2 linked regions of the Homo sapiens genome follow. The protein of the gene in region 2 purifies or fractionates together with the protein of the main gene of each other region. This does not show direct contact. Each region holds a gene or a part of one and is shown on either strand. Other genes may lie near its edges.

Evidence for each region. Proteins that work in one complex are often made in the same cells at the same time.
Region 1: the proteins of DDX23 (region 2) and TXNL4A purify together in Homo sapiens (affinity purification with mass spectrometry; 3 studies listed by BioGRID and IntAct, with this or other methods). This does not show direct contact.

Annotation. Positions count from the first base shown.
Region 1 is NC_000018.10:79,978,564-79,982,063, forward strand, and holds part of TXNL4A (thioredoxin-like protein 4A), read right to left. Parts: intron 1-3,500. UniProt on the Homo sapiens protein: Plays a role in pre-mRNA splicing as component of the U5 snRNP and U4/U6-U5 tri-snRNP complexes that are involved in spliceosome assembly, and as component of the precatalytic spliceosome (spliceosome B complex).
Region 2 is NC_000012.12:48,838,664-48,842,163, forward strand, and holds part of DDX23 (probable ATP-dependent RNA helicase DDX23), read right to left. Parts: intron 1,444-3,500; coding exon 1,350-1,443; intron 1,247-1,349; coding exon 1,181-1,246; intron 1-1,180. UniProt on the Homo sapiens protein: Involved in pre-mRNA splicing and its phosphorylated form (by SRPK2) is required for spliceosomal B complex formation.

The sequences.
Region 1 (3,500 bases), on a different chromosome or scaffold from region 2:
GCTCACTGCAACCTCTGCCTCCTGGGCTCAAGCGATCCTCCCATCTCCGCCTCCCAAGCAGCCGGGACTACAGGCACGTACCATCACACCTGGCTAATTTTTGTATTTTTTGTAGAGACAGGGTTTTGCCATGTTGCCCAGGCTAGTCTTGAACTCCTGGACTCAAGTGATACGCCTGCCTTGGCCTCCCAAAGTGCTGCGATTACAGGCATGAGCCACCACGCCTGGCAATATTTTTACTATATTCTTTCCCCTTTCTTATAGATATATATTTTTTAATTTGTTCATATTATTTCTGTTCAGACATAGCAAAATATGGTCATATTGTGATCGTACTACAATATTTTGTATGCTGCTTTAATTTTGAGCATTCTTTTTTTTTTCTTTTTTTTGAGACGGAGTCTCGATCTGTCGCCTGGTCTGGAGTGCAGTTGCATGATCTTGGCTCACTGCAACCTCCACCTCCCAGGTTCAAGCTATTCTCCAGCCTCAAACTCTCGTGTAGCTGGGATTACAGGTGTGTGCCACCACGTCTGGCTAATTTTTGTATTTTTAGTAGAGACGAGGTTTCACCATATTGGCCAGGCTGATCTCGAACTCCTGACCTCAGGTGATCCACCCACCTCGGCCTCCCAAAGTGCTGGGATTACAGGCGTGAGCCACAGCGCCGGCCAATTAAGAGCATTCTTTTACATACATTACCTACTTTCCAAAAATGGCAAACTTCTATGGCTGCGTGATTCATCAAATGGCTATGCCATTACTTTACCATTTGATATAGTTTGGATATTTGTCCCTGCCCAAATCTCAGGTTGAAACGTAACTCCCAGCGTTGCAGGTGAGGCCTGGTGGGAGGCGACTGGATCATGGGATGAATTTCTCATCAATGGTTGAGCGTCATCCTCTTGGTGCTGTCCTCGGGGTAGTGAGCTGAGGTTGTTCCAAGTGTGTGACACTCCGCCCCAGCTTTCACCGTGCGACGTGCCTGTTCCCCTTTGCCTTCTGCCATGATTGGAAGGTCCTGAGGCCTCCCCAGAAGCAAATGCCAGTACCACACTTCCTGTACAGCCTGCAGAACTGTGAGCCAATTAAACTTCTTTTCTCATAAGTTACCCGGTCTCATGTATTTCTTTATAGCAATGCGAGAAGAGCCTCCTACACCATTCTTCTGTTACTCTCTGATTGTTCATTAATATTATTCATCTGTGAACATTTTCCCCCTTAAATTTGTATACATACTTCATTATTTCCTAAAGACAAATTCCTAAAATTCTGGAACAAAGGATATGACATTTTAAAGGCTCTTTATAAATACTAACTCAATGCCCTTTAGAAGCTTGTAGCCACTTACATGTGTTATGAGTTAAACTGTGTCCCCAAAACAGTTGAAGTCCTAAACCCCCAAAGTGACAGCGCAGCTTATTTGGAAACGGTACTGCAGGCGTAATCAGTTAAGGTAAGATGAGGTCATACTGGAGTAGGTGGGCCCCTAATCTGGTGTGACTGGTGTCCTTAGAGGAAAATGGCCACATAAAGACACAGGGACAGGAGGCTCTGGGGGCATCGAGGACTGCAGAGGCGTCTACAAGCCTAGGAGCTCCAAGAGGCTGCTGGCAGCACCAGAAGCTGGGAGAAGCATGAGGACTCTCCTTGGCAGGTTTCAGAGAGAGCCCAGCCTGGAAAACACCTCGATTCTGGACTTCTGGTATCCAGAATTGTGAGAGAAGTTTCTGTTGTTTTAAGCCCCTCAGCTTGCAGCATCCTCTCACAGCAGTCACGGGAAATCAATGGGATATGCACAACATTTCTTCATATAAAACTAAATCTTTACAACCTGACTGTAACTTACAGGTGAAATAATTATATCTGGGATTTCCATGAAACACACAGCCTAAAAAAATGAGGGGTTAGGTAACACAAGACCAGCAAAATACCAGCAATTGTTGAAGTGGAACAATAGGAACAGACGGGTTCACTATATTCTCTACTTTGGGAAATATTTTTTAAAAATTAAGATGGAAATGTAAACCATGGAGCAGGGTGGGGAGAGGGGGAGGGGGAAAGCCCACACTTCACAAAGACTCCACTGCCCTTCAGCTTTGGTGAAAAAAACCGTATCAGAACTCCAGCACAGGGCCCACTGCAGGAGCGTGCGCCTCGCCATCCATGTGCTTTCAAAACCCCAAGGTGAGCACACGGCCCACTGCAGGAGCATGCAACTCGCCATCCATGTGCTTTCAAAACCCCAAAGTGAGCACACGGCCCACTGCAGGGGCATGCGACTCCCCGTCCATGTGCTTTCAAAACCCCAAAGTGATGTTTGCATTAGACATGGGCCCCTCTGAGTCCGGTCACTCTGACAACGCCCATTTCTGAAACTCTAGTTTCCCGCAGCGTCCACAGTGAGAATGTGTTGGTCAGGTTGCCAGAATCCAGCTTTATTTTCATGGTAAACTAATAAACTGTCTTTTGATTTGACTTAAACACAAAATACTTCCCTACAGAAGCTAAAATAAATACACCAACAAAATAAATGGTCACAGGCATTAGGAAAGTCAAAATAATATTTCATTATTCTCCCTTCAATGCCTTGCTCAGGGACAGATACAATAAATACCAGTAACATCATATTAACTTACGGAATCACCATGCAAATAATAAATTACTTGAAATATCATTTGGACAGGGTTGTAAATTGTGTACTTAAGAAAAAAGAAAGGTCACAACAAATTTTTACCATCCCTTTTCTTGCACGTAAAAAATAGTAAATATTATAAGCATCTGTGGTTTTTAATAATTTGTAGGCATTTAATAAACAGAGTGCAGGGCCAGGTGAGGTGGCTCACGCCTGTAATCCCAGCACTTTGGGAGGCTGAGGCGGGCGGATCACTTGAGGTCAGGAGTTCGAGACCAACCTGGCCAACGTGGTGCAACCCTGTCTCTACTAAAAACACAAAAATTAGCTGGGTGTGGCGGTGCACGCCTGTAATCCCAGCTACTTGGGAGGCTGAGGCAGGAGAATCACCTGAACCCAGGATGTGGAGATTGCAGTGAGCTGAGACCGTGCCACTGCACTCCAGCCTGAAGGACAAAGCGAGACTCCTTCTCAAACTAACAACAACAACAATAATCAGAGGGCAACTGAGTAACTGTAACTTTAAAGATACAAATGTGACTCTCCTTTTGCCTTCAAGCTCCGGCCCACTGCATCTAACCCGGAGAATTCTAACAGAGGCAAACTACCACATAAAGCTCACGTGCCACGAGAACGTGAACATCCTCTGATTTCACCACAGACCAGTTTCATGAACACTTGAGAATCCACCATGTATGAGGCACTTTTCACTCATGGATTCTAATTCTTTCAACACCTCTAAATAGATGTCGCCGATGTTTTAGGTGATGGAATTCAGGCTCAGAAAGGTCACGTGAGTGATGCCCAGCCGCACGGGGAAGGGGCAGAGCTGAGATGCACTCTGTCTGGCTCCAAAGCCTGAACT
Region 2 (3,500 bases):
GCACAGTGAAACCCTATCTCTACTAAAAAAATACAAAAAATTAGCCAGGCATGGTGGCACGTGCCTGTAATCCCAGCTACTCAGGAGGCTGAGGCAGGAGAATTGCTTGAACCTGGGAGGCAGAGGTTGCAGTGAGCCGAGATCATGCCACTGCACTCCAGCCTGGGCAACGGGGCGAGACTCCATCTCAAACAAACAAACAAACAATGCATGTGTTATATATATTTTTTGAGACAGACTCTCGCTCTGTTGCCCAAGCTGCAGTACAGTGGTGTCATCATGGCTCACTGCAGCTTCAACCTCCTGGGCTCAAGCAATATCCTTGCCTCAGCCTCCTGAGTAGCTGGGACTACAGGCGCATGCTACCACAGATGGCTAATTTTTAAAATTTTATAGAGATGGGTTTTCACCATGTTGCCTAGGCTGGTCTAAAAATCCCTGGCTCAAGTGATCCTCCCATCTTGGCCTTCCAAAGTATTGGGATTACAGGTGTGAGCCACTGTACCCAGCTCAAAATTCCTATGTGGAAGCCCTAACTCCTAGTACCTCAGAATTTGACTATATGTGGAGACAGGACATGTAAAGAGGTGATTAAGTTAAAATGAGCCCATTAGGCTGGGCACAGTGGCTCACGCCTGTAATCCCAGCACTTTGTGAGGCCAAGGAGGGCAGATCACTTGAGCCCAGGGGTTCGAGACCAGCCTGGACAACGTGGTGAAATCTGGACTCTACAAAAAATACAAAAATTAGCTGGACGTTGTGGCACGCACCTGTAGTCCCAGATACTTGGGAGGCTGAGGTGGGAGGATTGCTTCAGCCTGGGAGGTGGAGGTTGAAGTGAGCCGATATCATGCCACTGTACTCCATCCTGGGCGACAGAGTGAGACTCTGTCTCAAAAAAAAAAAAAAAAAAAAAAAAAAGGGCCTTTTAGGGTGAGCCCTAATCCAACACAAGGGGTACATGTGTACAGAGGGAGGACCATGTGAAGAGCTGAGGAAGAAGACAGCCTTATAAGCCAAGGAGAGAGACCTCAGAAGAAATAACCCTGCTGACACTCCGCTCTCAGACTTCCAGCCTCCAGAACTGTGAGAAAATTAACTTCTGTCGTTGAAGTCACCCAGTCTGTGGTATTGTGTTATGGCAGCCTGAGCCGATGAATGAAGACCCTCAAGTACTTACCTTAGCCTCAGCTTCTTCCTCAGCCTTTTTCTTGGCCAGAAGCTCCTCCAGGGATAATGGCTGGGCCTGAAGATAAAACAGAACTTTAGTCTATAAAGGCTCTCTCCCTTTAAAGATCAACAAAGCAACGCACGAGTTGAAGATGAAAAATATCCTTCCTCTCCTTTACCTTAGGCTTCTTATCACCATGTTCATCCTCTTCATCCTTCTTAGAGTCTCTGTCCTTCCGAGATTTAAAGTCTTTTCCTCGACCAGGAGATAAGCTTTGAGGAAAAGGAACAAGGTCCACATCACTCTTACTTCAGTGCCTGGATGAGGTTCAAGTTGAGCCCCGAAAAGAGAATGGAAGTTTCCCCATGACTCAACAAGACTGGCCCATGGTCATCTATCATGTCTTGAAACTCTCTTAGCAGGCATGGTCATTCTGCCAGCTCTGAAACCTAATTATGGCCCTGTCTTGGCCCCTTTCTACCCAAATCTCCTTTTGAGACTAATCTCTTTTGGGAAGTGGGACTTTACTACTGATGTCAAAAATATTTCCCCTAGGCCAGGCGCGGTGTCTCATGCCTATAATCCCAGCACTTTGGGAGGCTAAGACAGGTGGGTTACCTGAGGTCAGGAGTTCAAGACCAGCCTGGCCAACATGGCAAAACCCTGTCTCTAGTAAAAACACAAAAATTAGCCAGGTGTGGTTGTTTAGAGAAAAATTTTTTTTTTTTTTTTTTTTGAGACACAGTCTCACTCTGTCGCCCAGGCTGGAGTGCAATGGTGTGATCTCAGCTCACTGCAACCTCCGCCTCCTGGGTTCAAGAAATTTTCCTGCCTCAGCCTCCTGAGTAGCTGGGACTACAGGCGAGTACTGCCACCACTGGCTAATTTTTATATTTTTAGTAGAGACGAGGTTTCATCATGTTGGCCAGGCTGGTCTCGAACTCTTGACCTCAGGTGATACATCCACCTCGGCCACCCAAAGTGCTAGGATTACAGGTGTGAGCCACAGCGCCTGGCCCTCCTTAACTCTTTAATATACAATGAATTTAGCCTACATGGCCACCACCACAAGCCAAGAAGATACTGCTATCTATATTCCCTCATCATTTTTCATTCCTATCAATCCCAACAATCCTTTCCCCATACCTGCTCTAAGCTTAATCTACAAGATAATTCAAACAACCCCACTGAGTTTCTGTTAGGAGCATTCTGTCCTCTGCCTTGAATTCTAACCTATACTTTCAGGGCCTGATAAGAACTCTGTATACAGGCCAGGCACAATGGCTCACGCCTGTAATCCCAGCACTTTGAGAGGCCGAGGTGGCCGGATCACCTAAGGTCAAGAGTTCGAGACCAGCCTGGCCAACATGGAGAAACCCTGTCTCTACTAAAAATACAAAAATTAGCCAGGCATGGTGGCGCATGCCTGTATTCCCAGCTACTTGGGAGGCTGAGGCAGGAAAATTGCCTGAACCCAAGAGGCAGAGGTTGCAGTGAGCCGAGATCGTGCCATTGCACTCCAGCCTGGGCAACAGAACAAAAACTCCATCTCAAAAAAACCCCCAAAGATTCAGAGAAGAATCCATAGATAGAAAAGCTTCAGGCTCCCTCTCCCCTCTCCCCTCTCCCCACGGTCTCCCTCTCCCTCTCTTTCCATGGTCTCCCTCTGATGCTGAGCCAAAGCTGGACCGTACTGCTGCCATCTCGGCTCACTGCAACCTCCCTGCCTGATTCTCGTGCCTCAGCCTGCCGAGTGCCTGCGATTGCAGGCGTGCGCCGCCACGCCTGACTGGTTTTCGTATTTTTTTGGTGGAGACGGGGTTTCGCTGTGTTGGCCGGGCTGGTCTCCAGCTCCTGACCGCGAGTGATCCGCCAGCCTCGGCCTCCCGAGGTGCCGGGATGGCACACGGAGTCGCGTTCACTCAGTGCTCAATGGTGCCCAGGCTGGAGTGCAGTGGCGTGATCTTGGCTCGCTACAACCTCCACCTCCCAGCTGCCTGCCTTGGCCCCCCAAAGTGCCGAGATTGCAGCCTCTGCCCGGCCGCCATCCCATCTAGGAAGTGAGGAGCGTCTCTGCCAGGCCGCCCATCGTCTGAGATGTGGGGAGCGCCTCTGCCCTGCCGCCCCGTCTGGGATGTGAGGAGCGTCTCTGCCCGGCCGCCCCGTCTGAGAAGTGAGGAGACCCTCTGCCTGACAACCGCCCCGTCTGAGAAGTGAGGAGCCCCTCCGCCCGGCAGCCACATCGTCTGAGAAGTGAGGAGCCCCTCCGCCTGGCAGCCACCCCGTCTGGGAAGTGAGGAGCGTCTCCGCCCGGCAGCCACCCCGTCCG